Linked DNA regions of Homo sapiens: region 2 is linked to region 1. Evidence: fine-mapped expression QTL. A gene starts in region 1. The other region holds a variant in brackets. All regions are shown on one strand. Distances are between the middles of the regions.

What was found. PIP is the estimated chance that this variant, and not a neighbour inherited with it, causes the effect.
Region 2: its variant is fine-mapped to the expression of PPARG in rectum (CEDAR, PIP 0.95). The same link has a PIP of 0.9 or more in monocytes, monocytes after LPS and transverse colon.

What each region holds. Positions count from the first base shown.
Region 1 is chr3:12,278,767-12,295,363 of GRCh38, reverse strand. It overlaps PPARG (peroxisome proliferator activated receptor gamma), which reads right to left and starts at 6,294. Exons shown (of 8, transcript NM_138711.6): 1 at 6,230-6,294. RefSeq lists an enhancer at 7,733-8,311.
Region 2 is chr3:12,424,949-12,441,545 of GRCh38, reverse strand. PPARG (peroxisome proliferator activated receptor gamma) reads right to left here. Exons shown (of 8, transcript NM_138711.6): 8 at 7,202-7,648. The coding sequence ends at 7,401. Among named protein-coding and RNA genes, the nearest start is that of TSEN2, 51 kb to the left of the region's middle. The variant G/A (reference allele first, on the strand shown) is at 7,488.

The DNA.
Region 1 (16,597 bases):
TGGATTATACTTGACATATGCAAATGATTTTTGAAGTTTCTACTTCATTTATATTGACATCATTCTTATGTTTGTTCTCCTTTATAAACTTTATCCACCATATAAAACAGAAGAATTTATATAGGTGCTTTTCTAGATGCAGTCAAAAGCTTGTTTACACAGGTAATTATCAACTGACGGAAAGGATAACATTCAGTAAGGAACACTTTGAGATTCTCTGTTTTAGATTCACAGACTTTAGCAAGACTTTGTAAAAAATGCATGACGAGTAAGCAATGTGATTAGTCATGAGGCACGAGGGTAGCCCATACCTAACTGCTAAATACCACCTATTAGCTGATTCACAGAATTATGACCTTGCTTTTGAGGTGGCTACTAAGTTTCTATTTCTAACAGAGATGCACTGGCTTGCCATACTATTTTCAGCAAAAATAAAATTAAGTATGTATAATAATAATTATTATTATTTCGAGACAGAGTTTCACTCTTGTTGCCCAGGCTGGAGTGCAATAGCGTGATCTCGGCTCACTGCAACCTCTGCCTCCCGGGTTCAACCGATTCTCCTGCCTCAGCCACCTGAGTAGCTGGGATTAAAGGCACGTGCCACCATGCCGAGCTAATTTGTATTTTTAGTAGAGGTGGGGTTTCTCCATGTTGGTTAGGTTGGTCTCAAACTCCTGACCTCAGGTGATCCTTCTGCCTCTGTCTCCCAAAGTGCTGGGATTACAGGCGTGAGCCACTGCGACTGGCCGCATGTATGATATTTTATGATCTGTGGATCTGCCAAAGGATTAAGCATTATTTATACTACCTTGGCACATCATTTTCTGAAGTGATTGAAAAGTTCCTCTCATTTCAATCTATTAGGAAGCTACTTTTAAAGCCTGGAAGAGTTGACTCATGAAGAGACCACATAATTTGTCTAACATCACAGAGGAAATACAAGATATAATGAAGTGATAATATTCAGATATTTAATTACATTAAGATAATACTAGCTCATAACTTGAACTGTGATTACATTTCTTAGTTTAATTGATGTTTCAGAATAACTGTTTTGAGGTCAAAAATGGTTCAAGGAAGATCTGCGACTTGTCTTGACTAAGAGAAAAAAAATGATGGGTAAATATATCTTTTCCTATCACTGCTATTCCAAATGGTTATTTTCCTATTTTGTTTCAAAGTTTCTGGCTTATGAGGAAACTGGGACATGCATTAACTTTATTTTTCCCTCTCCTAACCCCCTCTTTCAAACTCCAAATCTGTTTTCTACTCCTTAAAGGCCTTGTTTTCAGGTAGCAAGGAAACAAGCAACTAGCCTTTCACATTTTTGCTGATAGTGGTTTAGTGAACTAACCCTGCCAGGAACTTTGGCATTTTAAAAGTAGACCCAAAGCTTTCAAATTCAAAGACATTTTAAATTTCAATTCAAAGACATTCAAATTCAAAGACATTTTAAGAGGTGTATGACAGCCAGAGGGGTGTGGTCAAGGTTAGGAAGTTCCTTCCGGAACTTCATCATTGCACTCGAACAGTTTGACAGTTATATTTCTCCACTGCCCTCGATATGAAGGAAAATTTATTCCTTAAACATACAGGATGAAAAAGTAACCTCTTTCCATTCCCTTGCCCAAATTATCTCCTTTAGTATAGAGCCAGAAAGAATAACAGTGCTAAGTGGCAAACTGAGATGTCCTACAATGTCACCAAGAAGCAGGGTAAATTCTTAGAAATCAACCTTATATTTTAAGACTATACACAGTAATCATGCAACCTGCTGACTGTGGGAGTTGAGCATATACAGACCTGGTACATTCCTACTCAGGGTATTTCCCTATTTCTCTACCTCCCTCATATCTACCTTCTCCTTACCTGTGGCAAACTGCGAAGGACTTCTCACCCCACGTTTTTGCTAATCTGAACTCTTCTCAGAAGGTCAGATAATCTGACTCAATATGTCATATCCACACATAATCCTCCCAGATGAGTCCACAAATTAAAGTGGTTTTTTTTTAATAGTGACATAGTTAAAACCAAGCAATGAATTTATTTTCTAAAATCAATGAAGTGGAATAAAAATGCTTCCTAAACAGATATTGAATCCAACTGAACTGAACTTACACAATCTAGTTTAAATCCTGACTGGAGGGTTTAAAATCTCCACTTAATGGATTCAATTCCTTTATATCTAAAAAATCGCAGTAGGAAAAAAAATTCATGGCACTGTCCCACAAAAGATTTTCAAGTTGAGAACAGCCTGGCCACTGGAACAGTTGAAGGTATGGCAATGACTCTGAGAAAGCCTACGCTGTAGGATTAAGGCAGTGGAAGATAACACGGCTCCCCACTCCCGGACAGGGACACTCAGCCCACCTACACGCACCAGCATGAGCCTTTCTTTGCCTTCGCCTCTGCATCCTTTTAGTGAAGTCCCTACTTGGGCTTTATAGCTCCACACTGCAGTGGGCAGAGTGGCTTGCCAGTCCAGTGTGCAGTTTGGGGCCCAGAGAAGGTGGGAGAAGTCCTCTCCAACAATCCTCAGCCCCCGGGGCCCACGCACACAAGCCTCTTCACCCCATCACCCCGTGTGCTGTTACCAGTAACTTCCCATCACCAAGACACCGCTTGCAGAGGCCTCCTCTTTGGCATATTCAGTCCAAGTCCCTTACTTTCTTAAGCAGGAGACACTTCACAACAATATGTATCAACAATTCACGCGAAGAATTTAAAATTTATTATTTGGATGGTGCACAGTTAATTATATGTTTTTCCACTTACTCCCTACTAGCAAATAGGTGGGTTATTAGGAGATATCTGAACCTTTCAAGCCACTAAAACACTATTTTTTGGTGAGTGCTTGTTGAAAGAGACCCATTTTTAATGACAAGCACAAGTCACTATTTAGTCTTTTAAGTTGTGACACTAAACTGTCTTCTGATCTGATGGATCCTAGGCCTCATTATAAAACGAACTTGCTCCTGGGGAATATACGTTAAGAATTCACAAGGTGTGCCATAAAGATATGCAAAGACTAGAGCTTTATCAAATCAAAGCGCACAATCTGTGCCTTCTAGATGCATCGGATGTATAATATTAACATAAGAGGGGCTACACAGGACTCGCAAAGCTGGAATAAAAATAATTACTATGCTGATTTTTGTCCAAAGTCATCAGGGAATGGAAAATACAATTTTAAATTGAATGATAATAAAATATTCCCAGAAACAGTTTATAAATTGATCACCACATGAGAAGCATCATCTTCAATCTTAACAATCTCAAAGTTATTGAGGTTTGAACTACAGTGAACTATTAACATTGGTAAAAGAGTTAGCTATGACATAGATATTCATGAAGGTTCTTTTCAGAATATCAGCTCAATTAAATTCAGGGTCATGGTCACATCATTTAAAGTACATGGGTTTGCTCATAAAGCCTTAAAATCATAGCAAAAGAGCAAGCAATAATAACTGCAACACTTTCTCCGTTTCAAAGATGACAAAATTGAGAGAAAGGATAAGGTACTTGCCTAAGCCATAATAATTGAAACAGTTGAAAATGTAAACAGTCATACTCTGAATGAAATTCTCGGCATTAAAATATTGATGTGTACTTATTGTTGAAGAGAAATTTTAAAAATATGTAAATCTGTTTTTACAAAATAATTTAAACATATACTATTATTGATGACAGATATTATCTAAACATCTACAAAAGTTTTCCCCAAAACATGGCCTATTGCATCTGAATAGATTTTATCCCAAGAACCTACTTTAAGTGCATTAAATAAAATTTAAAACATGACATTTTAGTTAAATAACAGCTTTAAAACATATACTATATTACTCCCCCAATCTACCTCTGTATTTTGAGAAAACGCAAACAGTAAGTAAGAACTTCCAAGAAGATTTCAAATAATCTTAAATCTAAATTTTTGATTTAGAACGCTATGAAACTAACTGAAGTTGATACGCTGGGGATATCTACACTTGCAAGATGGTTGTTCACAACTCTTACTATTCTTTTGTGGAGTCAAATTAGATCCGTTTCAAAGGACCTTTGTAAGCAATTAAAATCACTGCGCTTTTTGTTGCTTTGGGATATTAAGAGAGAGTAAGCAAAGTGGAGATCTACCAGGAAAAATAAGCAAATTAGAAATTCAGTTGTGGGGGGTGCATATGTTTACGCTTACACACTAGTGACTTCACCAAGTTTTCTCTATTAGTGAGTTTTTAAAAATCCTCTACAGCTAATATTTATTTAGTGGAATCCTATGAGACCAAAAACTTCTTCCAGTACATTTGCCACACCTAATGACATACTGTATTTCCAAGTCCAAGTGACAACGAATCCAGCAGAAAGACACCCACAATTAGAATGACCAACTCTGTCCTATGCATTGGGAATATATAGATGCTAGGAAAGAAGTGAAAGTGTGGGCCAGAATGTGTGAAACATTCAGAAAATGTCATTTTAACATATTTTCCTACTTCATGAAAGCCTCTTGTTATTAATAACGATTTTATAACCTGAAAACTAAATGAAATGTATTATTAATACTTGTATATGTTCCACGGTTGTGCCTTTTACACAGCTTTCATGCACATAATTATCTTGATAATTAAGGTTAGTGGCTAACATCCTTATTGTCAGAAAATTACAGAAGAAAAAAGTATTTGTTTATATTTATATAACACTGATTAAAAACAATTCACTACGACCATTAGTAATCCACTTCTAATTCATATTCCTCATGTCACACCTTTTCTCTTGTACACATTTTAAATGTCATAGGAATTTAGAAATATTGCAATTTAAAGCATAATCTAGAATTTTTTTAAAAGTAGTTCTGAAACATACAAAAAAATGAACATTTAGGAAACTAGTCCTTCAAAGAAAATATTATATTTTATCATTAAAAATATCAATCGCAAAAATATTTTCAAAGCACTTAAGTTCAATAAAGAATATGAGGCCGGTGGACATTTTAGTTTTAATTTTAAAAAGAAATTATATTCTTTTTAATGTAAAGAAATGAGAAAACGACATCCAAAAAGTCTTCAGCCTGGGATTCTACAAAACTTTATACCTCACTGATGCCATGGTTTTACAGCAGTTATTGTTTAAGAACTAGAAACAAACTTGTAAATATGAAAAAAGTTTTTGATTTTAAAAAAAACCATCATTAGTGTTTCTCTTTTCCTTCAAGTGAGTTTTAAAAGACTGAGATGGCCACCAGTTGATTCAAAGATCTCTTAAGACATAATTATTAGCAAGTTAACTATCAAATATCATATAATTTAAATCAGGGAGAAAAATTATGTGAAGTACACAAGAAGACAAAAATGGACAGTTTTGTAATACACTTCACTTTTTGGCTGAGACATTACCTTTAAAGTTTCGTATATTAAAGTGAATATTCAAATACACTTTATTTGGAATCAAATAAAGTGTATTTGATTCCAAAGTGAATCTGATTGAAAATATACTACACAAAACTTACTTTAAAACTTGAACAGAATGTTTTGATATATTACTCCAAATGCTAACTGGTAGCATCTATGAGTGTCTTCTGTCAAACTCCCCTAGGAGTGAAAGGTATTTCTTTAAGAGAAAAGCCACAGTGAATGTCCATGCCAGTCCCTATACCAGAAAGGTTTTCTAAATCATCTAGCACCATCAGTTGGTTCTGTTCTCAGTCAGCAATCGATCACTTAGCAATAGACAGAAAGACTGCCATAAAATACCTGAAACCTGTCGAAGATTTGCCCAGGTCCTTTTAAAGAGTTAAGTTATTCATTGTTCTCTTAATAAATCCAGTTAACAATTTGTCTCACGAATGACAGAAACAGTTGGGGTTAAAATAATGTACTTCAAAATCAGAGGTTTTCCAGGAATAGGTATTATACAACTCAGTTTATCATTGTCTGGTTTTATATCCAAATGATAATTTACACAAATAAACTTTACATTTTGTCCCTAATCTTGCAAGGAAAAGAAGAAAAATTTTAGTTTCTTCATGGCAGACGACTATTTTTGACTTGATTTCTTTTATAACAATGACACTATTTTTACAACCGTTAGCCTATGACCCAAGTGAATTGGATTCTTCTTATAAAACAAGAGCACTGCAAAAAAAAATGATATAAGGATAATACAATAATTTTGCAAATTTCGGACCTATCACCAACACATTCCAACAAAATGCAATGAGAGTGAGCCAACTCACCTAAGGAAAGGGAATTAAGCAGAATGCAGAAATGCAGGCTTCTGGTCACCAGCAGAGGTTAAGGCCCCTTCCTTACCTACCACTGACCTTATATAAAAGCCGCAGCTCGGTTACTCCCCGTTTCTGACTCCTTACCTTAGGCTCCTCCCTAAACACCGAGGCGTAAAGTACCACGACTACACACCCACCTTCCACCAAGGGACCTGAGATTTCTGTTAACCTCTGCTGCCTCTACCCCCCTCAGTTAGGCTCCCAGGAGGAGTGGTCAGCGCCTGGCACTTGCAGGAGCCCACAAAGCAGCGACTTCGCCTTTCCAGCCCCCCGGGGTGCGGCTGGGGGTCCTGGCTGCGCGCTCCATCCGCGGAGGCACGGAGGCACCCAGTCCCCGTCCCCAGCCCCTCCGCCGGGCGTAGGGCCAGCACAACGCGTCAGGGCACAGGGCCTGGCCAGCTACAAGCGCGCCCCTCGCTGAACGGTCCCCCGGTCCCCAAGCGGCGGTCGCCCCTGGGCTCTGGACAGCGAACGGGACCTCCTCCTCAGCAGGGGTGCCGCGCGGCCTCAGGACGGACGCACGCGGATCTTCGCTTCCCCGGGTCCAGACACCCTGCTCCAAAGTTCCCCCGGAGCGGCTCCCGACGCTTGCGCACCTCCGCCGGGGACGCGGAGGTCCCCGTGTCCCCGGCTCCGCGCCCACCCGGCGCTCTCCCGAGGGGGGCTGTCCTGGAAGCCGGGACGCACCGGCTCGCGTCCACTCGAGTCGGCACCGGCCGCGGCTCTCTGTGCCCGCGCCCTCCGCCCCTAGTGCGCGCTCCGGTAGACGCGACCCTCAGCCCGGGTGCCCTCAGCCCAAGACCCCTTCACCCGGTCACCCGTGAGCCGCCCGCCCGCGACCCGTCAGTCCGGGTCCTGCCGGACCATGACCCTGCCTCAGCCCCGGACCCCTCAGCCGAGACCCCCTTCTCCCCAGCTCTCATCCGTCTGGGACCCCGTCAGTTCCCGTTTCCTCGGCCCTAGCCCCCAGACCCTCGGCCCCAGCCCTCCGCGCCCCCTCCCTGAGCACTCCCCGCCCAGCCAGCAGCCGGTTCCCGAGCGCCGCGGGCACCCGTACTCTGACCTGCGGCCACGGCGGCGTGGCGCCCCTCTCCGGTGTCCTCGAGGCCGACCCAAGCGCCCCAGGCGGCGGCTGCGGCTCGGGCTCGGGCTCCGAGTGCGCTGGGCCCCGCCTGCCCGCGGCGGAGCCGGGTCGGGCCGAGCCGGGCCCGGCGCGGGGGCGGGCGCGGGCGCCGGCTGGGGGTGGGGGTGGGGGTGGGGGTGGGGGCGGGGGCGGGGGCGGGGGCGGGGGCGGCGGCGCGCGACTGGGAGGGAGCGGCCCGGGCTCGGCCGCCGCCCGCGCACAGTAGGGCCCACGGCGGGAGCCACCGGCTTTCCCGCGTCCACTCTCTGCCCCGCGGCAGGCTACCTGGTGTCGTTTGCTCCTCGCCACCACCGCTGGGAGGCGGCCCAGAGAGGGTCCCATTTCCGAGGAGGGATCCGAAGTTTAGGGGGATGCCCCCGGCCAGGGCCGGTCTGGGGAGACCGAGGTGTGGGGCTCCCTCTCGGCCAGAGTGGCTTGCCCTTCACACGGCGATCGGCCAGGCCGTCTTCCCAAGATGTTCTTTCCAGTGACATTTTAAAAGAAAATTTAATTAAAGCATATTTCGGGTCCCTTGGTTTTCTCTTCTGATCGGTGGTGCTGCACACTTTCAGAGTTCCTTGCGTTTGTAAGTTACATGGTTATTCACAAGTCACTGACTTTTAATCATTAAAAACATTTCTTAAACTCATTAACAGAATTTCTTAAATTTCTTAGCAGTGTTTCTGACACCGAGGGACTCAGACAACATGGGTGGGGACGGAGTGGGGACGTGAGGCACGAGAAACAGTTTCTCATGTGTTGGGTAGACAGTGACCTTTTCTTTTCCTGCCACGCTGTCCATCGTGACCTGTCCAAAGTGGGTTGGCAGGTGCGCGTTCAGAAAGCCGCTGGTCTCCTGGACTTGAGGCCCCTCTTTCCCTTTTTCCAGTCTTATTTCTGGAGCATACTGTTCTGGGCCTGATCCTCTTTGGGGAGGCAGCGATGCCTGAGGCCCCCCACTTCAGGAAGCTTATGGACTGTATGCTGGGGTGCTCTGCATTTCTTCCTAGCTTCATTGTGGTTATTGCCCCTCTGGTACAGAAGGTCCTCGTTTGTGGTTGAAGCAAAGTTTTGCGAGGATGGGTATCACAAGGGAAAATATTCAGCGCTTAAATCAACATAATCATGTCCTTCCTCCACAGCCCCTAAGATAAGAAGCTGAGAGCCACGGATCTTACAGGGACTGACCACTGAAAGACCATTTATTGGCCTGTGATTTAGGTAGTCAGGTTGACCCGGATCCACAGTCTCCACTCAGGCGGAAGTGCTCCGTGCGTCCTACTTCTTGTTAATTCCAGAGTTCCAATCTGCTTTTTTTTTTTCTTTCTTCCTTTCTTTTCTTTCTTTCTTCCATGAGACAGGGTGTTGCTGTGTCGCCCAGGCTGGAGTGCTGTGGCGCAATCACGGCTCACTTCAGCCTCGACTTCCCGGGCTCAAGGAATCCTCCCACCCCAGGCTCCCAAGTAGCTGGGACTACAGGTGCACACCACCATGCCTGGCTAATTTTTTTTTTTAATTTTAATTGTTTAGTAGAGACTGTGTCTTGACATGTTGCCTAGACTAGTCTGAAACTCCTGGGCTCAAGTGATCCTCCTGCCTCAGCTTTCCAAAGTGCTGGGATTATAGGCACCAGCCACTGCGCCTAGCCTGCTTTTTAAAATCACAGCTTTATTGAGGAATAATTAATATAATCTAAAATGTAAATACCATAGAAGTAAAATGTACAATTCAGGCCGGGTATGGCAGCTCACGCCTGTAATCCCAGCACTTTGGGAGGCCGAGGCAGGTGGATCACTTGAGGCCGGGAGTTCAAGACCAGCCTGGCCAACATGGTGAAACTCCATCTCTACTAAGAAATACAAAAATTAGCTGGGCGTGGTGGCACGTGCCTGTAATCTCAGCTACTCGGGGGGCTGAGGCAGTAGAATCGCTTGACCCTGGGAGGCAGAGGTTACAAGCCGAGATTGCGCCACTGCACTTCAGCCCCAGAGCAAGACTCCATCTCAAAAATAAATAAATAAAATGTACAGTTCAATGAGTTTTAGTTTATTGACAGAGTTGTGCCATCATCACCAAATCTACCCTTAGAACATTTTCATCACTCCAAAAAGGAACCCCCTCTCCATTAACAGTCATTCCACCAACTCTAGATAGAGATATTCTTTCTCTATAGATTTACCTATTCTGGACAATTCATATAAATAGAATCATAGAATATGAAGTCCTTTGTGACTTTCTTCTTTCACTTAGCATAGTATTTGTGAGGCTCATCCATGTTATAGCTTATATTAATATTTCATTCCTTTTTATGGTCAATATTCCATTATACACATATACCACATTTTGTTTATTCATCCCATGAATTGATGAATATTTAGGTTGTTTCTACTTTTATGGGCTATTATGAATAATGCTGCTGTGAGCATTCATGTACAAGGTTACTTGTGGACATATATTTTTATTTCTCTTGAGTATATACCTAGGGACAGAACTGCAGGATCATAAGGTAACTCGGTGTTTTTGAGGAACTGCCAGTCTGTTTTCCAAAGTGGGCACACCATTTTACAATCCCACCAGCAATGTGTCAGGGTTCCAGTTTTTCCACATCCTTGTCAACACTTGTTATAGTCTTTTTTATTTTAGCCAACCTAAAGGGTATGAAGTGATATCTCATGGGGTTTTGTTTGTTTGTTTGTTTTGAGACAAGGTATTGCTCTCTCACCCAGGCTGGAGTGCAGTGGTGCAATCATAGTTCACTGCAGCCTCGAATTCCTGGGCTAAAGCAATCCTCCCACCTCAGCCTCCCAAGTGGCTGGGACAACAGGTGCATGCCACCACACCAGCTAATTTTTGTATTCTTTTGTAGAGATGGGATCTCACTATGTTGCCCGAGCCGGTGTCTCATGGTTTTGATTTGCATTGCCTTGGTGACTATCCCGTTGAGCATCTTTTCATGTGTTCATTGGCCATTTATCTTTTTTGAAGAAAGTCTGCTTAAATCCTTTCCCTGTTTTTAAATTGGATTATTTTTCTTTCTATTGTTGAGTTGTGAGAGTTATTTATTTATATAGTCTATATCCGAGTCTCTTATCAGATACATGATTTGCCAATATATTATTCCAGGCTGTAAGTTGTCTTTTTACATTTTAAAATAATTATTTATTTATTTATTTATTTATTATTTATTTATTTATTTAAAGACGAGGTCTTGCTATGTTGCCTAGGCTGGTCTTGAACTTTAGGGCTCAAGTGATCCTCCTGCCTCAGCCTTCTGAATAGCTGGAATTACAGGCAGATGCCACCATGCTTGGTTCTTTTTACTTTCTTGATGTTGTCATTTGAGTTTTTAATTTTGATGAAGTCCAGTTTACCTGTTTTTTCTTTTGGTGTCGTGTCAGTGACTAACCCAAAGTCATGAAATTTGCTCCTAATGTTTATTTTAAGAGTTTTATAGGTTTAGTTCTTACCTTTAGGTTTTAAATTCATGTTGAGTTAAATTTTGTATATGATGTGAGATGGGGGCCAATCTGTTTTTTTGGTCGGAAAATTCCCATAATTCAACAACAGTGACTAAGGGGAACCCCACAACAGTGAATTCGTAAGTGGTGCAAAACTTTAGAGTTGAGCTGAATATTTTCTAAATTCCCTCTGGATCAAAAATTTTGTGATTTTTTTTTTTAAGGAGACTTATGGGTAGTGAAGTGTATAAATGTAAGAGGTTAAGTAATGTAAACTGAAATAATATGTCTGTTTTTCAAATTGCAAGGCTTGATTTAGTAGGTTATGAAATCAATTTATTCAGTCATAATCAGTATTTTTTAGTCAAGCAAAAAGGACAGAAATAATCAGAACATGCCTACTGTATTAAAGAAAGTGCTGCTTCGTAACTTTTGTGTAATGCATGTGTGTGTGTATCTGAGTGTACCAGGAGTTGGTATAAAATGTGGTTTTTACTGTGGGCCATATCTTTTAAAGTTGGAAAAACACTGTATAAACTATAGCTGTAGAATTCTTTCTTTCCACAAACATTTTATTGAGTGCTTATTTTGTGCCAGGCCCTCTGCTAAGTGCGGGGAATAAAATGATAAACAGCACATGGTCCCCACCCTGCAACTTTGCACATAGGCAGTGCCATCCATATGGGGTTCCTAGAGACGAAAGACTATGCCCGTTTCAATTTTTCCAAACCACAAGGACTCCTTCCAAATATTGGTGTTTGGTCCCATGGTCCCATGGTCCCATGGGACTTCTTTTTTTTTTTTTTTTTTTGCAATTAATGCTTAGTTGATTATCTCATTTGAGATTTGCATACATATTTGCTTTTCTTTCAATAAAGAGGACTTTGTTCCCAGGTTTATAATTACATACTATGTTTATTATATTAAGAAGAGAGTGCAAGTCTAGAAATAGAAGTTTACCATAACTGAATTGTTTTCCATTTTACTCCAGCTATATTTAAACTGGTCTCACTGGACAGACCTCAGATATTTTATAGTAGTGTTATGCTACTTCTTAAAGGAAAAATTTAAAATTGTAGCAAAACTTTTTCATTATCATCCGAGTGTTCGGCAAAACTGGGCATTGAGAATAGTGACATGTAAACCATTTTGCAGACTGAGTTTAGGAAAGTTAGTGTGCTGTATTTGAAGTCAAGCAATCAAGCCACTCATTTATAGCAGCTGTGTATCATCATAGCGCTGACATTTGCTCCTTCTCTTTATCTGAGACACCATTTATCAATCTCTAAGCCTTATAAATTCCCAGGAGGTTTAGAAGATCTTAATTTAAAATTTCAAAAATCATAACCAGTTGAACATGCCAGGCAGGTTAAACATACACATATGCACACACACACACTTCCACAAATGTATCTACTTTTTGAATGACTCTGACATGTTCCCACTTGTGATTTTTATGTCTAGTTATGAAATTTTACCCACAACCTCCCAATTTTACTTTGAATTTCATTAAGGTCCTTTTCTCCTCCTCTGTTTATTCTGCCTCCTCCGATGTTGCCCTTCACAAAATAACTTGCTCATCTCTTACAAGGTCTTAAGGACCAAAGCCAGATTTACAGCCTTTTCTTCTAACTTAAAATTGCTTGATCTTCTCATATACTGTATCCCTCTGCTTCACTCAGCATTCTATTTCTATTTTGAATGGTTGCCTATAAATAAATAAAAATTTCTGGGACATTTTAATGGAAATATTAATCTTGATTATATTCAAGTCAAGAATATAATATAGCTATGTATTGGTTCGAAAAACCCACTGAGAGGCCAGGCGCAGTGGCTCACGCCTATAATCCCAGCACTAGGCCAAGGTGGCCGGATCACTTGAGGTCAGGAGTTTGTGAACAGTCTGGCCAACATGGTGAAACCCCATCTCTCTACTAAAAATACAAAAATTAGCTGGGTGTGGTGGTGTGTGCCTGTAATCCCAGCTATTTGGGAGGCTGAAGCAGGAGAATCACTTGAACCTGGGAAGTTGCTGTGAGCCAAGATCGCACCACTGCACTCCAGCCTGGGGGACAGAGGTGCGATAGCACCAAAAAAAAAAAAAAAAAAAAAAAAAAGAAAGAAAGAAAAGAAAAAAAACCATGGAGAATATAGCCAAATTAGTAATTTTTCTCTTGATACACCAACGTGGAGCTTTCCTCTAGGTAATTTTTTAAAATGGAAAGAAATATAATAACACCCTTTTAAAAGCACTGAATGAAATAACTCCTTTTTTTTTTACTCATCTATTTTTGAAAACATTTTATTTTATTTTTTATAGTTTGGAAACGCCTATGAAATTAATAATGACATTTAATTTCAGAGAGATTTCACTTGGTAATTTCAACAGTTTTGAGTTAGACTATTTACATTTTAAGATTTTAATGGTTTAAGACACATTTGAAAGGTTCAAAAGTGCTTTTGGTTTTCAGGGAATAAAAAAAGAGCCATTTGTCCTGCTTTCTCATTTTTTCTCCACTTTTCCCCCTAAAAATGGACCTACTTTGGGTATCAGTTTATCCTCTAAGTATCAAGAGGTAGGAAGCCGACTGAGTAGAAGTTAGGATGATGGGAACTCATGATTTTCTTGGAGGGGCAAGTCCTGCTTTCTAGTTGTCTTCTCCTTTCTGAAGAAAGAAATTCTGTTTTAATCAAGTACTGGTGTAAAGGAAAGAACCCCGGGCTTTATTTCTGCTGGTTGTGACTTTGAACAAGAGATTCAACCTCTCTGAGGCTTAGTTTCCTCATCTGTAAAATGGCAATATAATATATTCTCAGGCCAGGACTTTGAGGCTACAGTGAGCTGTGATGGTGCCACTGTACTCCAGCCTGGGCGATGCAGCAAGACCCTGTCTCTAAAATATACATACACACACACACACACACACACACACACACACACACACACATATATACACACACACACGCACACATATTTTTATATATATTTATATATATTCACAGATGTTTGTGTATGTCTATATATATTTTAGAGACAGGGTCTCTAAAATAGGAATATATATATTATTAGAAAACAAAGAATATACACATATATATTCTCTTAATCTCATCAGTGAGATAACAGGAGGAATTACCAAATCAGGCTCCCAGTAGGAACTCAATAAATGTTATTTACCATCTGGATGAAAGCATTGAGAATACTTTTACTGCTAGTCACTCACTAATCTGAAATAGTCACTCATTAATATTAAAACACAGTTTGGATGTTAAAATCTTTAAAAATATATGTTTCCTCTTTAGTTATCAGTCTACATGGACATTCTACTCTCTTTTTTGCATGTGAAAAAAAAGTCATGAGTCTAGTGGGTAGACTTTGAAATAGCTATGAATCTGAGATTTCTGCATGAACATGGTCTTCTCAGGACACTTGTGTGAATTTATAGATTCTGCTTTGTCTTATAAAACTAAACACAAAACCAAAAACTTTTTATTATGGAAAACACTAGACTATATAAAAGTAGGCAGAATAGTCTAATGAACCCCCCACGTACCCTAACCCAATGTCACGCCCTGGGCAATCTTGTTTCATCTGTACCCTCACCCACATCCCTCCCTGCTCTACATTTCTGAAGGAAATCCCAGACAATGCATTTCATCATAAAACCTTCAAACTCTGTTAAATGTTGTTTTTATAAGTCTTCTGTTTAAACGTTGGTCAGAATAATTTGCTCTGGGAGAGTTTGGATTTATCAGAAAAGTTTCTCTACTGAAATATTTTCAACCCTTGACGTCTATCATGGTCGAATTGTAAAGTGTGTTAATTGCCGAGAGGACTTGTGTGCACGCTACAGCTTCCGGAAGACCTAAGGACACAAGCATGCTCGGGCTAAGAAATGCTCAAGGAATCTAGACCTGGGGAAAGACAGGGTAGTTTCAGTTACTGAAAAAAAACAAACAACAAAAAGCGTGTCTGTGCCAAGAACAGATTACAGCAGAGCTGGGTCCCCTAAGCTTTGGGATAACTGGGTGGGGCTTGGGTTGGCAGATCCCTGGGGGGCAGTCACTTTCTTGCACCTTTCTTGACCCCTTTTTGTTTATACATTGGGAAGCAACATGTGGCCCTCATCTTCCACTTCTGCTGCGTTTCTCTCTTCGGAATACCTTCCGGAAGACCTTACTGGGAAGTCACTTTGTTCATCTGTGCTTCTGCACTGCTCTAACACTTGTTATATGTCAGTATAGATTGCTGTGGAAATGTCTATCTTCCCTTACTAAGATGTAAATGCCCTGACAGCAGAAGCCACGGTTGATTAATCTTTTTATGCCCAGGACTCACTGTACTACAGCACCTGAAATCAAATAAGCGGACAATCAATGTTTGTTGAATGATTGATTGCCGAGTGACTAGCTTGTAAATCCAAACCTACTCTTAAGGAAATAATTCAAATGTTGCCCCCTAAGAGCCTTCCATCACTGTCATTCTTCATACTCTTAACAGCTTTATTTTTTGTCATATGAGTTATCATTGCCTGAAATTATATATTTGTTTAACTTTTACTTGTACATCGTCTGCCTTCCCACACTAGAGGGTAACTCCAAGAAGGCAGGGATTTTTAAATTCACTATTGTAACCTCAGCACCTAGCGCATGGCAAGTGACTAGCACCTAGCGAACAGCTCTCAATGAATCTGTATTATTGAAATAATGGTGATGTCATCAATTCAGTCACCATTACAAGTTGTATTTTCAGTTGAGCGTGGTGGCCCACACCTGTAAATTCTAGCACTTTGGGAGGAGGAGGCAGGCATATCACTTGAGGTCAGGAGTTCAAGACCAGCCTGGCCAAAATGGTGAAACCTCGTCTTTACTAAACATACAAAAATTAGCTGTGCGTGGTGGCGTGCACTTGTAGTCCCAGCTACTCGGGAGGCTGAGATACAGTAGTCCTAGCTACTTGGGAGGCTGAGGCTGAGGCTGAGGCTGTAGTCCCAGCTACTCCGGAGGGTGAGGCTGAGGCACAAGAATCACTTGAACCTGAAAGGCGGGGTTGCAGTGAGCCGAGATTGTGCCACTGCACTCCAGCCTGGGTGACAGAGGCAGACTCCGTCTAAAAAAATTTAAATAAATAAATAAAAATAAGAGGCCAGGCGTGGTGGCTCACGCCTGTAATCCCAGCACTTTGGGAGGCCAAGGCGGGCAGATCACCTGAGGTGGGAGTTCAAGACCAGCCTGACCAACATAGAGAAACCTCGTCTCTACTAAAAATACAAAAAATTAGCCAGGCAAGGTGGTGCATGCCTGTAATCCCAGCTACTGAGGAGGCTGAGGCAGGAGAATCACTTGAACCCAGGAGGCGGAGGTTATGGTGAGCGGAGATCGTGCCATTGCACTCCAGCCTGGGCAACAAGAGCGAGACTCCATCTCAAAAAAAAAAAAAAAAAAAAAAGAGAGGTTGTATTTACATTTTTATATGCCTATAACATTGATTAATATTCCCTTAGTTAAGTCCCCAGCTGCTGATTTTTGCATTACTTAGGTAGCCACAGGCTTTTCTGTTTTTATAAACAAAAAACTGTTTTGAACATTTGGACCCATGTGCCAGTTTGGCTCTTGATACATTGAATACCTACTGTTGACACATAATTTATATTTTGAGCCAAGTCTGAGGACTGAGAAGGCTCAAGACCAAGGCTTCCTAACAGAGTGATTTCAGATAGGCTGTTCCCACTATGATTG
Region 2 (16,597 bases), 150 kb before region 1:
CTGCATGACACGCTCCTCAATGGTCTCTTTTGAGTGTGCCATTTCCCCCTGCTGGGATCCTGACCCATAAACCACCTCACCGGGCTTGTGGAAGGATTCAGCAGACAGAGGGCAGTTTATAAGTAAAGCTTGTACTTGGTGCTGGAGAATACTTGCTATCGTGAGGTGACAGAGTGGGGAGACAGGGGACACGAGGGGGGCAGCCCTGGCTAGAATCTTGACAGTAGGAGGCAACTCCTAAAACTCCTCCTTCCCCAGCAACCGTCCCCCACCCTGCAGCCCTGGGAGGCCTGGCTGGGGAGAGGCTTTTCCAGGGCACGTTTCCCACTGCTGTGGCAGCAGCGGCAGCATCATCGATAACACGCCGGCTCCTCGGAGGCCTTCCTGGCTCCAGCCCATCTGGCAGGCTCAGGCGGCCAGAGACCCCGGGCCAGGAGCTGCCAACCCGCTGACTCAGCACAACGCCCCTCTCTGAGCAGCTTGGCTTTGGGTGGGAACCAGCCATCCATCCGGTGTCCCTCCCCTCCCCTTGGAGGTGGCTGGACCAGCCCCAGGCCTTTAATAAGTGCTGGCTGTTGCCTGGTCCAGGCCTAGGTCGCTAGGAGGGCTGAATGCAAGCACAGGCAGCAGAGAACACAGGCCTCCGAGGGTCAGCCAGAGAGGGCTCTTTCTTCCTGCCAGCCTCCCCTGGAGGCCCCCAAGGCCTTGGGATATCAGAGCTAGAAGGGCAGACCAGCTCTCTGTGGAGATGGGGAAACTGAGGCTCTGAGAAAGTGACTTCCCAAGTCCCACTGCAAACCCCTATCAGACCCAGGCAACACTGGACAGGTCCTCATGGGCAGAGTCTCATGATTTCTTCTCTGGTGGTGGATGCTGGTTACCAATGTCCCCTGGCCAGGATGAGCTCCTAGCAAATCCTGTGAGGTTGGAGGTACTCGTCTTTTGAAGATTTTAATAGTTTATGGGACTTAAGCACTTCATCCACTTATGACCTCTCATTCTCACAACAACTCTATCAGATAGGAATTGGGGACTTCGCCAACTAGATGAAGAAACTGAGGCCCAGAGACAGGAAGCAACTTACCTAAGGTTGCACAGATAGTATGCGGCAGAACCAAAGTCAAACTTTAGTCTTTCCTGCCCTAACGCTTTTGCTCTGCCAACCAGGCAACACTGTCTTTGGTTATTCTGGAGACAGCACAGCATACCAAGAAAGAGCCCTAGCAGGGGTGGGCCTCTGGAAGCCTGAGGTCCAGCCTCAGCCCTGCCTCTCCATTTTTCTGGCCTAGCTCCTTCACCTCTATGGGCCTTTCTTATCTGTAAAGAGTAGTGATCAGGCTTGCCCTGCTTTTTTTCATTTACTCTATAAAACATGCAGGGTAGGTGCTGCTATTCCCATTTTATGGCTAGGGAAACTGAGGCCCATTCATCATGAAGGAATTAGATGTAATTTGCTGAGATAGTTCTACAGGCCAGGTATGATGTCCCCAGAGAGGAAAGTGACCTACCCAAGGCCACATACATAGAAAATGGCAGTGCTAAGTCTCAAACGGACAATGGGGGCTCTAACCTACACTTTCCGGCTTCCAGTATTGTGGAAAAATGGCCAGGGGATCACAATTTTCCAACTCTTGCGGGAAGCCACTAGGATCCTCCTTGAGTCAAGCCCGTGGCACTAAATAGACCCCAGGAATGACACTCTCCTGGGAACTTTTGGCCTGGAACATATTTACACAGCTCCGGAGGGGATGAAAATATCCCAACCCACTCCCTACAGACTCAAATTAGCAATTTTCTTATTCTTTATAACCCCTCTGGAAATTCCAACTATGTAATATTAGGCTAAAATTAGGAGTGTAAGTCACAAGAGAAAAGTCCCACTACTTGGGGAGAGAATGTTTTTGTAGCCTCATCCTGAGCATGTGTTCTAAATCAGAACACAGCAGTTGTCTTTCAAATACTGTTTTTTTCTCCTAATCCTTATAGATTGGAGGCAAAATCTTTTGAGAGAATGTATTTTTACTCTACTGCCAAGTGCCAAATTCAATCCCGGCTTTGAGTTTCCAGGCTCCTCAGGTGAGGTCCAGAACACTTGCACAGGAAGACCTGTCCCGTGGGCCCAGAATGCCTCCTTAAAGGTGGGGCACTTTAACAGCCGCGGCAATAACGTTACCCGCAGCCAACACTACCGACTGGTTTGGATGTACCGGGAACCTGTGTGAAGTGTTTTACAACCATTATTACATTTAAGCCTCATAACAGCCCTCTAAGGTGGATATTATCTCATTTTACATATGAGGGCAATTAAGGCCTAGAAAGATTAAGAGATTGGCCAAAGCCATATGGACCTAGAACCATAGCTGTGAAGTTAGACTTTTAACCCAAATCAGCGTAACTCTGCATTCCACCCCAGGGTGCCGTCTCCAATAATAGTTGCTATTTATTGAACACATACTGTGTGCTACACACAGTTCTAAGTGTCTTATATAATAATCTCTTTTGTTTTTAATATGCTTTTTTTTAATTTTTATTTTTGGAGACAGAGTCTCACTCTTTTGCCCAGGCTGGAGTGCAGTGGTGCGATCTCGGCTCACTGCAAACTCTGCCTCCTGGGTTCAAGCAATTCTTCTGCCTCAGCCTCCTGAGTAGCTGGGACTACAGGCACACGCCACCATGCCCAGCTAATTTTTGTATTTTTAGTAGAGACGAGGTTTCACCATATTAGCCAGGCTAGTCTTGAACTTCTGACCTCAGGTGATCTGCCCGCCTCAGCCTCCCAAAGTGCTGGGATTACAGGCATGAGCCGCCGTGCCCAGCCTCTAATTTTCTTGAGGTCTATGACCAATGCAGGCCTTTTCTGGACATGAGATATGGGACAGGCAGGCTTTGACATATGTGGATAAAAATGACCATGAGATCTCCATGAATTAGATTAAGAAGGTGAAACGAAGCTCCTGGAAGCAGAGGGCCTTTGTAGCTTGGGGCAATATGAGCAACGGTAGGGAATGGATATCAACAGGGGATAGGGCCAGTGTCCTTAAGCTGTTTATGATTGAGGCAAGATATTGCGACCAGATGAAAGGGAAGGAGGTGAGCTGGAGCCCCCAGGGTGCAGGAGCAAGCATGTGGTAAGTGTGAGCCCAGGGGCAGAGCCAGGCCTGCGGGGTGGAAATCACCCAGGGCCTTAGAGGGGAGAGAGCTTCTTGTCTCTTCAGTAGTTGTCTGTGGGTTGGGCAACCATCAGGAGCATTGTAGAGAGAATTTCTACTTTGGGGAGTGTTGACTTTCGGGGCGCTGACTTTCCAAATTGCAAATTTGACCATGTCTCTCTTCTGCCTGGCAGCATCCCCGGATCCCAGTTGCTACCAACACAGCCCGAGAGAGCTCCTCGTCAGGGAGGACAAGGCTCCCACAATTTGCCGCTGACTGGCCACATCCACATTTTAGCCTGGGAGCTGTGGGCCACGCCCCTCACCTGGCCGTTTTCTGAACGCTTGGAGAATTTCACACTCTTGGGCCTATGCACACGCTCTGCAAATCCTTTCACCTCTCTAGGCACTTGTTGCGTCTGCTGAGCTGTGACTACTCATCCACAGACTGTGCCCCCCTTGAGAGCAGGGCCTAGTCGCGGTCACCATCATAACCTGCTAGACATGACTGGAGTATGGATTATGTGTTTAATGAATGCGGTGGGGCTCTGGGACATTGTATGATCTTTTGAATTCTTAAAACCCTGCTATTTCTTTTCAGTTGGTGTTAAATGGAGGATGTACCAGGTGCAATCCCACGGTCAGGGTGGAGACGTGCAAATAACAACATTCATGATGCAGAGACAGCCAGGGGCTGAGGTCAAGAACCAGGATGAGGGGGTGAGCAGAAGGTAGGGAGGGGGCCACCTAGTGACCATCAGGCATCTTGGTCCTCCTGTCTCATAACCCAAACTCTTGGAGTGAATGAGTAGGAAAAGGGGGACCAGAAAGCAATGGGGATGGGCATGGTGGAAATGAGCTTTGGTTCTTTCTCTCAGGATGTAGAATTAGGAGCCCCGCACCCGCCCATCTCCACTAGGTATTTCCAAGGGAATGGGTATCCAGAGGCCAACATCCAGCCCCTCTCTCACCCAGCTCTTTCCATCAGCACCACACGGTCAGCGGGTGATGTCAAGCAAGGAGGACCTGTCCAGGAAAATACCTGCTTTTTAGCCTCGAGGGAGCCAAGAAAAAGTCACTGGAGTCCAGAAGCCACCAAGAAAGCCCGCCACAGATGCCTCTGTCCCCTTCCCTCTTTGCCCCTCAGTGGAGGTGGTGAAGCTGCCCCTCTGGCTTCCTCTAGTTGGAAATTCGCTATGTGACATCAGCTAGTGCTGCCACCTCTTCCGACCCTGAGCCTCCTAGGCTCCTTGCTCTGCACCCACATTGTAAAAAAGGAGCCAGAAACTCAGGCCAGCCTAATTTCTTATGGCGGCTGGAGAAACAGGGTGTGCAGCTTTGTTTCTTCTGTGTGTCCCCTCTTCGTTCCTGGGCTCCACACACAGCGGGAGGAAGGAAAAGGGAGCCCGTTCCAGGGAGGTGCTGGGGGAGGGCTCTTGTGGGAGCCTGGAAACCCTTTCTTGACTCTTGACCAAAGTTACTTTTCTTCCTATTTTTATTAACACACATCCCTACATGTGTTTGTGTCCAGAGAAAGTACTATGAATAACTGATGACAGATTCGTTAACTTATGATTCATCCTGGGGGAGAGAAAGAGGGAGAAAGGAGCAGGAGCTTTGGAGGCTGAATATAAAGTGTTGTCAAATATTTAGCAAATGATCTTCCAAGCCACAGGGAAAAAGTCAGAGATGGGAATTTGAAAGCTGCCAGGATTTAAAAGCCATTTAATGCTAACCATCAGTGCCAGAGAGCTGAGAGCGTTTCTCTTCCTCCTTCCATTGGCAGCAACAGCTCCGATAATGTGGAAAGGCTTGGATGGGCTGCGGAGCGCTGGTGGGAACTGAGACCAGGCAGCGGGGCTGAAAGACTTTTTGTTCAAGAAAGCTTGTAAATAAGGGAGCGCCTCAGAAGTGGACTCTATCTTGTCTACTGCCTGTACATTCTCTCTTCCAAGAGATCCCTGACCATCAGCTCTCTACACAGAAGACTCTAGCCAGTCATCTGGGTGTTTGAAAATAAGTTTCAAAATATCCTGATGTTTGGCATCAAGGAAGAAAAAAAAAGAGCCATATGACTGACTGAATTTGTCACTTTCCTTCCAAATGTTTTGGTGTTACTTAGACAATGGCTTCAGTCTTTGTCTATCTGTCATCCTAAAGGTTTGAGCTCAGAAAGGTCTCTCCTGAAGGGTTAGGAATCCTACATTTTTAGGGCTGGGGTCAGTACTCACTTCTATAACCTGATTCTTTGGAGATATAGTTATTTTTAAGCAAAAGATGAACAGGTCTTTCTTGATATTTTGGCTTGAAAACCTCAAGTCTGCAGTTATGTCTCCTGAGTGTAAATATCCTAAGGCAAGATAAATTAAGGGAGAAGTGGCAGGGAAATTTAGGTCAGTGGAAATAAGCGTCCCGCACAACAGACACCTCCAGATAGTTTGGTTACACTCGTAAGCTTGTCCAACCTGCCTTATTTTGTTGTTGTTGTTTGGTTTGATTTGGTTTGGTTTAGGCTTTTAGTAGCCTGAAGCCATGGTTTTTAATTTCTGTCCCTAGTGGTAAGTGGAAAAGAGGGATGAGGAAGGGGCTTTATTGGCCCAGTCAGAAACAGAAATGGAGAACCCATGACTCTATTCTCTCCCTTAGACACCCCGTAAGGCATTCTTCAAAGACATAGTATGATGAGTTCATGAGTAGCCAATGCAAGTGAATTTGGTGGATTGAATCAACGAATCTATTCACTGTGCCAAGAATGAATAGATTGTCACGCCTTCAGGGAACTTAGAATCTATCTGCTTGGGAGGCAAGCATTCCATTAATGATGCGGATAGTTAGCCTCTCAGTTCAGAAAAGAGATCTCTGGACAGAGTGGTCCCAAGGAGGAGGACAGGAATAATCACAGCAAAACTGCCTTGCAGAAGGAGAAAACAGAAAGTAGCTCTTCTCCCTCAGTTTTTTTTTTCTTTCATTGTGTTCCTGTTATTTTGCTTCTCTGGAATGTCTTTTCTCCTCCTCTCTACCTATTCCAGTCTAACACTTCCCTGAGGCCCTCTTCAGCAAATCCACAGATTCAGTCTCTGGGATTCCAATCTTCACTCATCTTACTTCCTACAAACTCTTACCATTCACCTGGCATGTGATTTCATCTGCGTATTTGAATCTGTATGAAAAAAGATTAATCTTTTCTCCTCAGTTTATAATCGGTAAATTCTTTTTGGCAGGTGTCAAATCTTTTTTATCTTTTTTTAGAGACAGGGTCTCACTCTGTGGCCCAGGCTGGAATACAGTGGCATCATCACAGCTCACTGCAGCCTCAACTCCCAGGCTCAAGCAATCCTCCCGCCTCAGCCTGCGAGTAGCTGGGACTACAGGTGTGTGCCACCACACATGGCTAATATTTAAAACTGTTGTGGAGACAGGGTCTCGAACAAGAGACCAGCTCAATCGATCCATCCACCTTGGCCTCCTAACGTGCGTGGATTAAAGGCTTGAGACACCATGCCTGGCGCAGATACCAAATCTTAAAAAAGTTCTGTGTTCCCCAGAGTTTCTAGCAGTGCTCAGTTGCTGGCCACTGGCTCTGTGGGTGCGCAGTGGCATTGATTAGTAGGTAGTATACGAGTAGGCTGCTGGTGGTGCGTGAAAATCTCGGTTAGGATTGTGGAAGAAGACTGAATTCTGGGTAATCCCAGGGATATGCTGCATATCAGCACATCCAGGCTACAAAACACATGCTCTGAGCAGTTTCTGATTCTGAAGTTCCCCTTCCCTTCTTAGTTCTGATTGTTAAAGCAGATGCAGAGTTCCGAAAAGTTGTAAATTGAGTAAAAAATTAATTTACTGAGAATGAAAGTGTATCAGCAGTTCCACTCACATATTTTAAAATGTCTAAGAAAGAAAAGAAAAATAAAGGAAGAAGGAAAGGAGGGAAGGGAGGGAGGAAGAGTGAGAGGGATGGAGGGAGGGAGGGGAGAAGGAAAAGGGGTAAAAAAGAAAGCCTGGGGGCTAGGGTGGGAAACACACAAGACTCAGTCTTCAAATACTATCAGCAATTTCATAATATGGTAATTTTTAATATTAAAAGTAAATTGTAAATGTGTCTTTATAAACAATATGCATAAAATAGATCATATTCTAAAACCTTTTCTTTTTAAAATGCTTTTTCACAGTAAATTTCTTAGGTGTCAGATTTTCCCTCAGAATAGTGCAACTGGAAGAAGGGAAATGTTGGCAGTGGCTCAGGACTCTCTGCTAGTACAAGTCCTTGTAGATCTCCTGCAGGAGCGGGTGAAGACTCATGTCTGTCTCCGTCTTCTTGATCACCTGCAGTAGCTGCAC[G/A]TGTTCCGTGACAATCTGTCTGAGGTCTGTCATTTTCTGGAGCAGCTTGGCAAACAGCTGTGAGGACTCAGGGTGGTTCAGCTTCAGCTGGAGCTCCAGGGCTTGTAGCAGGTTGTCTTGAATGTCTTCAATGGGCTTCACATTCAGCAAACCTGGGCGGTCTGGGGAAGCACATATGGAAAACACAACAGGGGGTTCAGTCAAAAAATCCTCTGGGCCCCGCCTTGGAGGCCTAGGCAGCTCTACCAAGCAACTCATCTGTATTTTTGGTTTGTTTTGCTTTGTATCTTAAATAGGTGGGGAGGAAGGGTAAGCAGATAATGGGTAAGAACTAAGGATGGAATCAGAACCAAAATGATCAGAGCTCTTTGCAGGGCCTTTTTCTGGCCAGGATGTAATCTGTGTGGTCAGCTGAGGGAGCATGGCATCAAAACAATCCTGTTCCCCAAATGAAGTTTCCTCTGCTAACGTGTTTCTACTCAGAAATCTCCTTTTCTTTTCTTTTCTTTTTTTTTTTTTTTGAGATGGAGTCTTGCTCTGTCATCCAGGCTGGAGTGCAGTGGCATGACGTCGGCTCACTACAACCTATGCCTCCCGGGATCAAGCTATTCTCCTGCCTCAGCCTCCTGAGTAGCTGGGATGATAGGTGCTCACCACCACGCCTTTCTAATTTTTGTATTTTTAGTAGAGATAGGGTTTCACCATGTTGGCCAGGCTTGTCTCAAACTCCTGACCTCAAGTGATCCACCCGCCTTGGCCTCCCAAAGTGCTGGGATTACAGGCATGAGCCACTGTGCCCAGCCAGAAATCTCCTTTTCAACTTCTGCTCCTTCCTGATGAATCTACGTTTTATAGCTTCTACTCAGTTTCTTATCATAGCTTCAAATATGCTTTTTTCACAAATATGCTTTTAAAAAAAGGTTTGTCTTTTTGCTTAATTTGCTTATGCTATGTTTGCTTAATATGGCATATTTCCAAAGGACAAAACACAGTTTTAAAATACTGATACATTTTAACAGAGGTTTCTTTTCAGTGGTAAGATTGCAAGCAATTTTCACTAGTTCTTCTTTAGATTTTTCTTTAGTTCAATTTGCAAATGGTGAACTTAAATTACTTTTAAGCAGTTTACTTTTTTCTTTATGTAGATCTTGTTAGATTTATTCTCAAATACTTTATAGCTTCTATTGTGAATGGACCCTTCATTTTCATTACATCTAATATATCCCCACTGATGTGCAGAAAACTAATTGATTTTAGTATATTGAAACAATTCCAATTTTCTGAACTTTTATCAGTTCAAATAGCTTTTAATCATGGATTTCTACTTTTTTTGGATAGATAATTATATCAGCAATGGTAGCTTTATTTATTTCTTCTTTTGCAGCATTAACCTTTCTCATTTCCTCTTCTTGCCATAGTGTGTTGGCTAAAACCTCCAATATGGGATTAAATAATAGTAGCAATAGTAGCAATTCTTGTTTTATTCCTAACTTTGAAGGAAATGCTTCTAATGGTTTATCAGCAACTATGATGTTTGCTATAGATTATGGAGAACATGTTTTACTCCTGGCTTTCCAGGGGTTTTACAATTTTAATTTGTTTTAGTCAGGAATGTTGTTGAATTTTTATCAAATACTTTTACATTTTTCTATCTAAAGAGCTATGATATCTGAAGAGTTATGGTTTTATCTTAACCTAGCACAGTGAATTACATTAATAGAGTTCCTTATACTCTTGTACTCACTTGCTAATATTTTATATAGAGTTTTTGTATTTGTAGGTGATACTGGTTTAGAGTTATTTTGGGGGCCATTCTTTGCCTGTTTTAGTAACAATGTTAACTAGCCTTATACACCAAGTTGAGAGGTTTGCCTTCTGTGTCAACGCAGTAATGATCTGTTCCCTGACGGTTTCTTAGAATTTGTTTGCAGAACCATCTGAGCTTGGTGATAAATCTATCACTATCTTTAATTTTTCTTCCATAGCTTTTATCTATTCAGGCTTTCTACTACTTATATGGTAAAGTTTTAGTAATTTATATTGGAATAAAGTTGTAGATGATATTGTCTTAGAATATGAAATGTATTATTTTTATTCACGCTCCTTAACTTAACGCTTTTTTTTTTGTGACAGAGTCTTAATCTGTTGCCCAGTGCAGTGGCATGATCATGGCTCACTGCAGCCTCCAACTCCTGGGTTCAGGTGATCCTCCTGCTTTAGCCTCCCAAGTAGCTGGGACTATAGGCATGAGCCGCCACACCCAACTAATTTCGAAATTTTTTGTAGAGGTGGGGTCTTGCTACGTAGCCCAGGCTGGTCTTAAACTCCTGGCCTCAACCAATCCTCCTGCCTCAGCCTCCCAAAGTGCTGGGAATATAGGCATGAGTCACCATGCCCAGCTCTTAGAGCTCTTTATTTGTGCATTCTCTCATTAAAAAAATCTGATTTGTCAAAGGTTTATCTATTTTTTGCTTTTTTAAAAAAGACATAGCTTTTGGTTTTATTAATCAAGTCTGTTTTTAAAAATTGTGTGTTTTGTTTTTAATTTATTGAATTCCTTTTTAAAACTTTCTTTAGGTTTACTTTCTTCTCTTTTTCTAGTTTTCTTGAGTTGAATGCTTAATTCATTTGATTTGGTATTCTTTGTATTCTAATAAATGCATTGAAGCCTCCACATTTTCTTCTTAGTGCCACTTTGGTTTCATCCCATGGGCTTTGATAAACGGTACTCTCATAGTTCTTTTCTAAACAGCTTGTCTTACAATTTTGATTTCATTTTTAACCTAAGAGTTATATAGAAGCATGTTTTTAAATTTCCAAGTAAAAAGTTTGGGTTTCAGTTTTTGTTTTCTAATCTCTAAGTTTTATTTTCTAATTTCTCAGTTTGTTGCCTTGGGTTAGATTATAAGGTTTTCTCAGTCAGGCTCATCAAGAAGACAGAACATTCACTTGATCATCTATCTCGTATTGATTTCAAATTTGAGCTCCTGAAGGCTATTTATTTTCTTTTAAAAACTGTAACTCTTCTCTCCTTCATGGTATGAGTTTTACCCACCTTTAATGTCCTTCATGACCTGGTCCTGGTCATCCTCTAGTCTCAGTTCTGTTTCATTTTGCTCCATGTTAAGCCATATTAATCTATTTCCATACCAAGTTCCTCAAACACCCTATGTTCTGTCAGGACTCTGCACTTATTCAGATTTTATTCTTCCTGCCTGAAACATTCTCACCTTCCCTTCACTCTTCTTATTGACTTCAACCATTTCTTCAAAATACAGCCTGTGGTGGGATTCCATCCTGAAATCCTTCCTCAACAGTATCCCTTCCTCTCTCCTGTTCATCTCATCTCCTTTCTCTGGGCCCTCATAGCACCCTATAAACACCTCAATCGCTACTATACTAGTAGATTACATTCACTGAATGGTTATTATTTTCCAAAGATCGTGCCAAGGGCCTTATATACGATATGCCATTTAATCTTCACAATAACCCCATGAGGTCATACTTTACAGAGGGAGAAATTAAGACTTAGAGAAAAGAGTTGCATCTTACCAAGATAGACCACTTGCTAGTAAATGCAGAGCTGACATTTGGATCTAAGTCTGTCTGGTTCCAAAGGCTCTGCTCTTATTCCTTATTATCTTGTATTGTAAGTTCTGACTTTCTTGTTTCTCCCCCGTTAGACCGTGAGGTATCAGAGGGCAGAGACTACGTTCTGAACCACCAGTGGAAACACAGGAAGCATTTGGTTGACTGAGTTAATGAGCGAGAAGGCTGTTCTGGCCAAGAGCCCTGGATCAAAAAGCACAATTCTCCTGGCTGGTGAACAGGCCTGAAGGCAGAATCCCTACACAATGAAGAAGTCTGTAAACGATGTTTTCCTGTGTCTAATAAACTCTAGTGACCTTTATCCATTGAGATAAGGCTCAAGAGAACAATGTGAGATGGCAGAGTGGTCTCAGAGTGGGATTTTCAGAACTCTAAATATTCTTCTAAGTTAACTTTCTTACTTTTCTTCCATTAAAGAAGGAAACTGGTCTTCAGTTTGATTTTTTCACTCTCAGGTCTCCAACATATCCCATTGACCAGAGTAAGTATAATTTTCTTTTTAGATTTCAGCATTCAATTTTGGAACCATCAGCAAAAGATCTCAGATTCTGAGAAGGAACAAATGATCTGGTCCTGGCCTGGAGAATTGGGCCCCTGGGAGCATGGGGTCTTCCTCGCAGTTGCTCTATGGGAATGAAAAAGCCACTGATGCTTCATTGAAGGCTGGGCCCCAGACTGGCACCTTGGTTTAATGACTACAGATCCTCCTGCTTGATGAATGTGTGCATCTCAAAGGCCAGAGGCAGACGTGCATCTAAAGACAGGTGCCGAGAGAGGCCCTCCTGGGCTGGGACCACTCAGCCTGGGCTAGGCCTCTGCTTACTAGACACTGGCTCCCGGAGCCTTTCTGCAGCTCCTCCTTCCTCCACCTGCTTCTTTTTTTTTTTTTTTTTTTTTGGTAGAGACAGAATCTCTACATTTTCCAGGCTGCTCTTGAATGCTGGGCTCAAGAGATTTGCCCTCCTCAGCCCCTCAAAGTGCTGGGATGACAAGCGGGAGCCACCGCTCCCAGCCTCCTCCTTCCTCTTGAGCAGCACCACTGGGGTCAGCCCTTGGGCTGAGGAGATGATGTTAATCTACTAGGTCCCGTTTATCATACAAACAAGGACTAACATGCAACTGATCAGGGCTTGCTGGAAACACTTGGCTCCGGTGCAGTGTCATGGAACTGGCCTCTCTAGGAGTGGAGAGGGATCTGGTTTGGATTTTCAAACCCCTCTTTGGCAAGTTATTCTTTATGATGTGATGGATGAAGCTTGGCTGAAGGGCTGAAATTTTGTGGCCACGGAGTAAGTATATTTTCTGCAATGACAAGTTAGATCATTTACAGATCAGTCCCATTGTCCCCCTGACTGAGCCTCCGTTAAGGCAAGATGGTTTAGGGAAGGAGGGCAGCAGAGAAAAGTTGCATATTCTACATCTAAAGCTTTCACTCACCAGCTCTGTGACCTTGGGCAAACTGATTAAGATCAATGGGCTCAATTTTCTTGTCTAAACAAAACAGACCGGACTAAATAGATAATCTCAAAGATTCTAATTCAAAAATTGTAAGATGTATTCTCATTTGTAATTCCCTCTACATAATTCAACTGGGGAAATATACTCAAACATCTAATTGAAAAAGCATATTAACATTAAACTTAGAACACCTGACTTACTTAAAAACAAGAACGCTTCCTTTGGTCTTTAAGCTCTAGTCAAGGGCAAAATGGATCTGCCAGGGTTGTTCCCTACCCTCCACCCTCCAACTGGTCACCAGCTCCCCACTAGTCTCTTTCCCCTTTCTGCTCCACGCACACTCAGTCCTTTACTGAGCTAAGCCAGGTGCCACAGTTGTGCCACAGAAATCCATCCAAATACCCAGACAGTGCCAGGGCCTTTCTCTTCTCTCTCCATTCCCAACAGCCTAGTGCCTGAAAAGGCACTGTTGCCAGGAGGCCCACCTGAGATCCTCTCCCTGCACCTTGCTGAGGTTACAGTTGAGTCTGGAGTAGGGCCAGGGCCAAGGGTCCTCTCTGCTGGGGTAGGCTGCTTAGAAGGCCCTTTTGGGAAGTGTGTGTGACTCAGACTCCAGGACTTAGCACTCGAGGAGGCTGGAGTCAATTACTAGTTCCCTACTCCCCAGGCTGTGAAGAATTGGGAAAGAAACCTTTCCGGTCTCCATCCACACGGTCCTGGAATTGATTACAGAGCACTGTGGATTATGGGCAAATCTACAAAGCTTCCATCTCGTCCAGATCTGGTACTGTTAAGTGGAGGGTTTATCTGAAGCAGATTCAAACGTTCTGGTCCTCTTGAGATCTGCCCACCTGGGCTGGGTGTTTCCCTAGCACAGATTTTCTCAGGAGGTGTCTCAATTAGGGAACCAGATGACCACAGTGGAGTCTCCTGAAGAAGAGGCAGAAAAAATGCAGGTGGTTTTGTCTCTATTCTAGGAGCTGCTCTCCTGGCTTTCTGCATCTTTCCCTATTGGCTCTCTGATAGAGACTAATCTGAAACCGACTGTCCCTAGGGCGTTCAAAACCAAAACAAACAAACAAACAAAACAAATGTGATTGCAGGGCAGCTGTAAATTGATCCACAGACAATGAAAGACCTTAGTTCAGGTGTGGGCTGAAAACTGGAGGGGAGGCAGGGCTACTTAGGGAACCCAGTACTTTGCAATTTAAGTTCCTTTTGCGCTTCCTCTCAAGTTTCCTTTATTGCACTGCTCCCTCAGTTCACAGGCATGTTCTAGGAGGCAGTGGATTGGGAAACTGAAGACTTGAGTCCTGTTTCTCTTCCACTTAGTTTCTGTGTGCCTGTGGACAAATCATCTAATCTTTCTGGGTTTAGGCTTAGTTTTCAAGACAATGACATTTCTTTCATAAGCGTATGGTGAGAATGAAATAGGTAGAGGAACTTTAGAACATATTATAATTCTTGTGTTTGTTCGAATAAAGGCAGTTTCCATGGGGTTGGGGTCAGGAGTGTAAGTAGGAGTGGGTGGCATATCAACAGTTATGAAATTGAAGGTTTTTGAGTTGTTCTTGGTTAGAGCAGAAATTCAGGAGCTCAAGAAAAATAATGCCTGATGCAGACACGTTTGGGGTTTCAGGCAAGTTCTCGTTCCTGTAGTTGAGTGCACATAGGCAAGGTGGTTTAAGAACAATAACAAAACAAAAAACCCACGGTGCCCCAATTCACTACTTCCTTGAAGAAATGATGCTGGGAATTTGAGGGTACTTTTCTGATCCAATTCAGCAAAGTATCATGGTGTGGCCTATAGCAATTCCTTCCCACCATCCTACCGATAGGAAAAAATTATTCAGCAAAGTTATACATGTGTCCTCTTAATATTTAAATTTGAATCGGAGCTTGGTCTAGTGCAGGGATTATCAATTTTGGCTACATATTAAAATTATCTGGGGAGACTAAAAAAGCAAACGAATGCCTGGGACCCATCCCTAGAGATTCTGATTCACTTGCCTGGGGTATGACCTTCAGGATTTTTAATAGCTCTTGGGTGATTCTAATGTGTGGCCAAGGGTGCACACTGCCAGCTGAGTGAGACGCAGTTGGAATTACAACTTTGCAAGCTAGGTAACCTTGGGCAAGTTCCTTAACCTTTCTATACTTCAGTTTCCTCACTTTAACAATTGGAGCTGTAGCGGTAATTTAACTCATAGTGTTGGTCAGAGGACTGAGGGACATACGGAAAGTGCTTAGCACAGTGTCTGTTGTACAGTAAATTAGCTATTACTATTTTCATTACTGCTCTGTAAACTTGCCTCATTTTCTTCTTACCTTTCTTTTCCTCTCATTTCTCTGATTTTCTTGGGTCCTTTCTACATTTTTCCTATTCTTTCTTCCTCAATTATTGCTCCCTTCAGCCTTTTTCTTTTCCCTTCAGCCTTCCCCCTCCCTGCCCCCCGCTGCTTTCCGGATGTTTTCCCCTTTCCACTCCTGGGCCTGCATCTTGCTGGGGATTTATAAGAACGCTAGCAGGGCCAGCTTAAATTAATCAGAGGTCTGAGCCATGGATGATTTGAGGAGCAATGTCGTTTACTGCTGCTGCTTTCAGGGAAAGGGGATGACATAAAATAGAGATCTTGCAAATGCTTTGACAAACAGATAAAGATCATCTGTAACCAGCACATTCTGCAGTGAACACACATGTTGCTGGTAGAGCCTTCGCTCTGAAGTGGGTTAACATTCTGACACTTGCCGGTTTAAATAACAGTTTCACATTTAATTGCTTCCCCTATCTATGCCTGATAACAATAATATATATGACTGGGCCAGGATGGTGGAGCGGGATAACCATAATAAAAATCAAACCAGCCAATGTTTTCTTTGATCTGCCCATTAAATAGCGATTACATCTCAACTTGCCTCATCTCAACACTCCACTCCCACCTCCAATATGCAACTCCCAAACCACAAAACAGTGCAAGCCCATCTGGTGACAGGGTGGGCAACCCTTTCCTGTGTGCCATGTTCAAAGCCCCTCCACTCAACAGCACCACCAGTGGAAACTGAGCATGGGCTCTGTCATTTCTGGGTCTCTCAGAGTGAAAATGGAACCCGAGATTTCTGTCCGACCCCGGAAAGCCCTTGGGTCCCTACCTCTGTGCACCCTGGGGTTAGAGGCCCCCTGTCGTTCTAGTCATTCCAGGTCACTCAATTTACGTCCAGCCATGCGGTTTGCTCCCCACCTTTTTGTCAGGACCAGGGGAGCCATCTGCAGTCCCCCCTTAAGCCTAGTGATGTACGTACATTTCTGCTCCTTCTCTGTCCAAGAAGGAATCTGACTGGGGCTGGAAATGCAGGGTGGGAGGTAGAGGAAGAAGGGTGGTGCTGAAATAGGAAGAACGATCCCTTCCAAGTCTACCACTAACCTGCCATCTCCATGCCCTGAATCCGTCTGGTGGCTCTACCCTGCGATGCTCTGGGCAGGATAAGGGGAGGGAAAGGAAGAGATAAGGGAATACCAAGAACTCCTACCCTTCCTTACTCCCTCAACTTCTGGAAATGGCAACAGCACATGAAGGGCAGTAAGTGAAGTTAAAAGCTGCCAGGTATGACTTCTCTCCACTCCACTCCCCCGCTGTCCTCCTTCCCAATGTCTCTCAGAAAAACCTGTGATCTCAAAACACATGCACGCTCTCTAAATATGGTCTAAACACATGAAGTCCCCAAGAAGTTCATGGGAATTCCTGAAGGCTGGGAATCCAGCAGACCTGCCATTCCCCGTCTCCTTCGGGGGCCACAGGACGTCCGAATCCTCCCCACTTCCAAGCCCTCCCCTTCCTCCAGGATCTCTTTCCTTCTGGGTTTTGTTCTCAATCCACACCTAATCCCCTTAAAGCGATAGTTGATAAAGCGATTAGCTGATATCCCCTAGGGGTATTTATATTGTAATAAGCGATCTTAAGAATGACTGTTGGTGGCATTTCCAGCAATGTGACTGGCAGGATTGAGTGGCGCTGCTTCAAATCATATCATATAGGGCAAAAGGG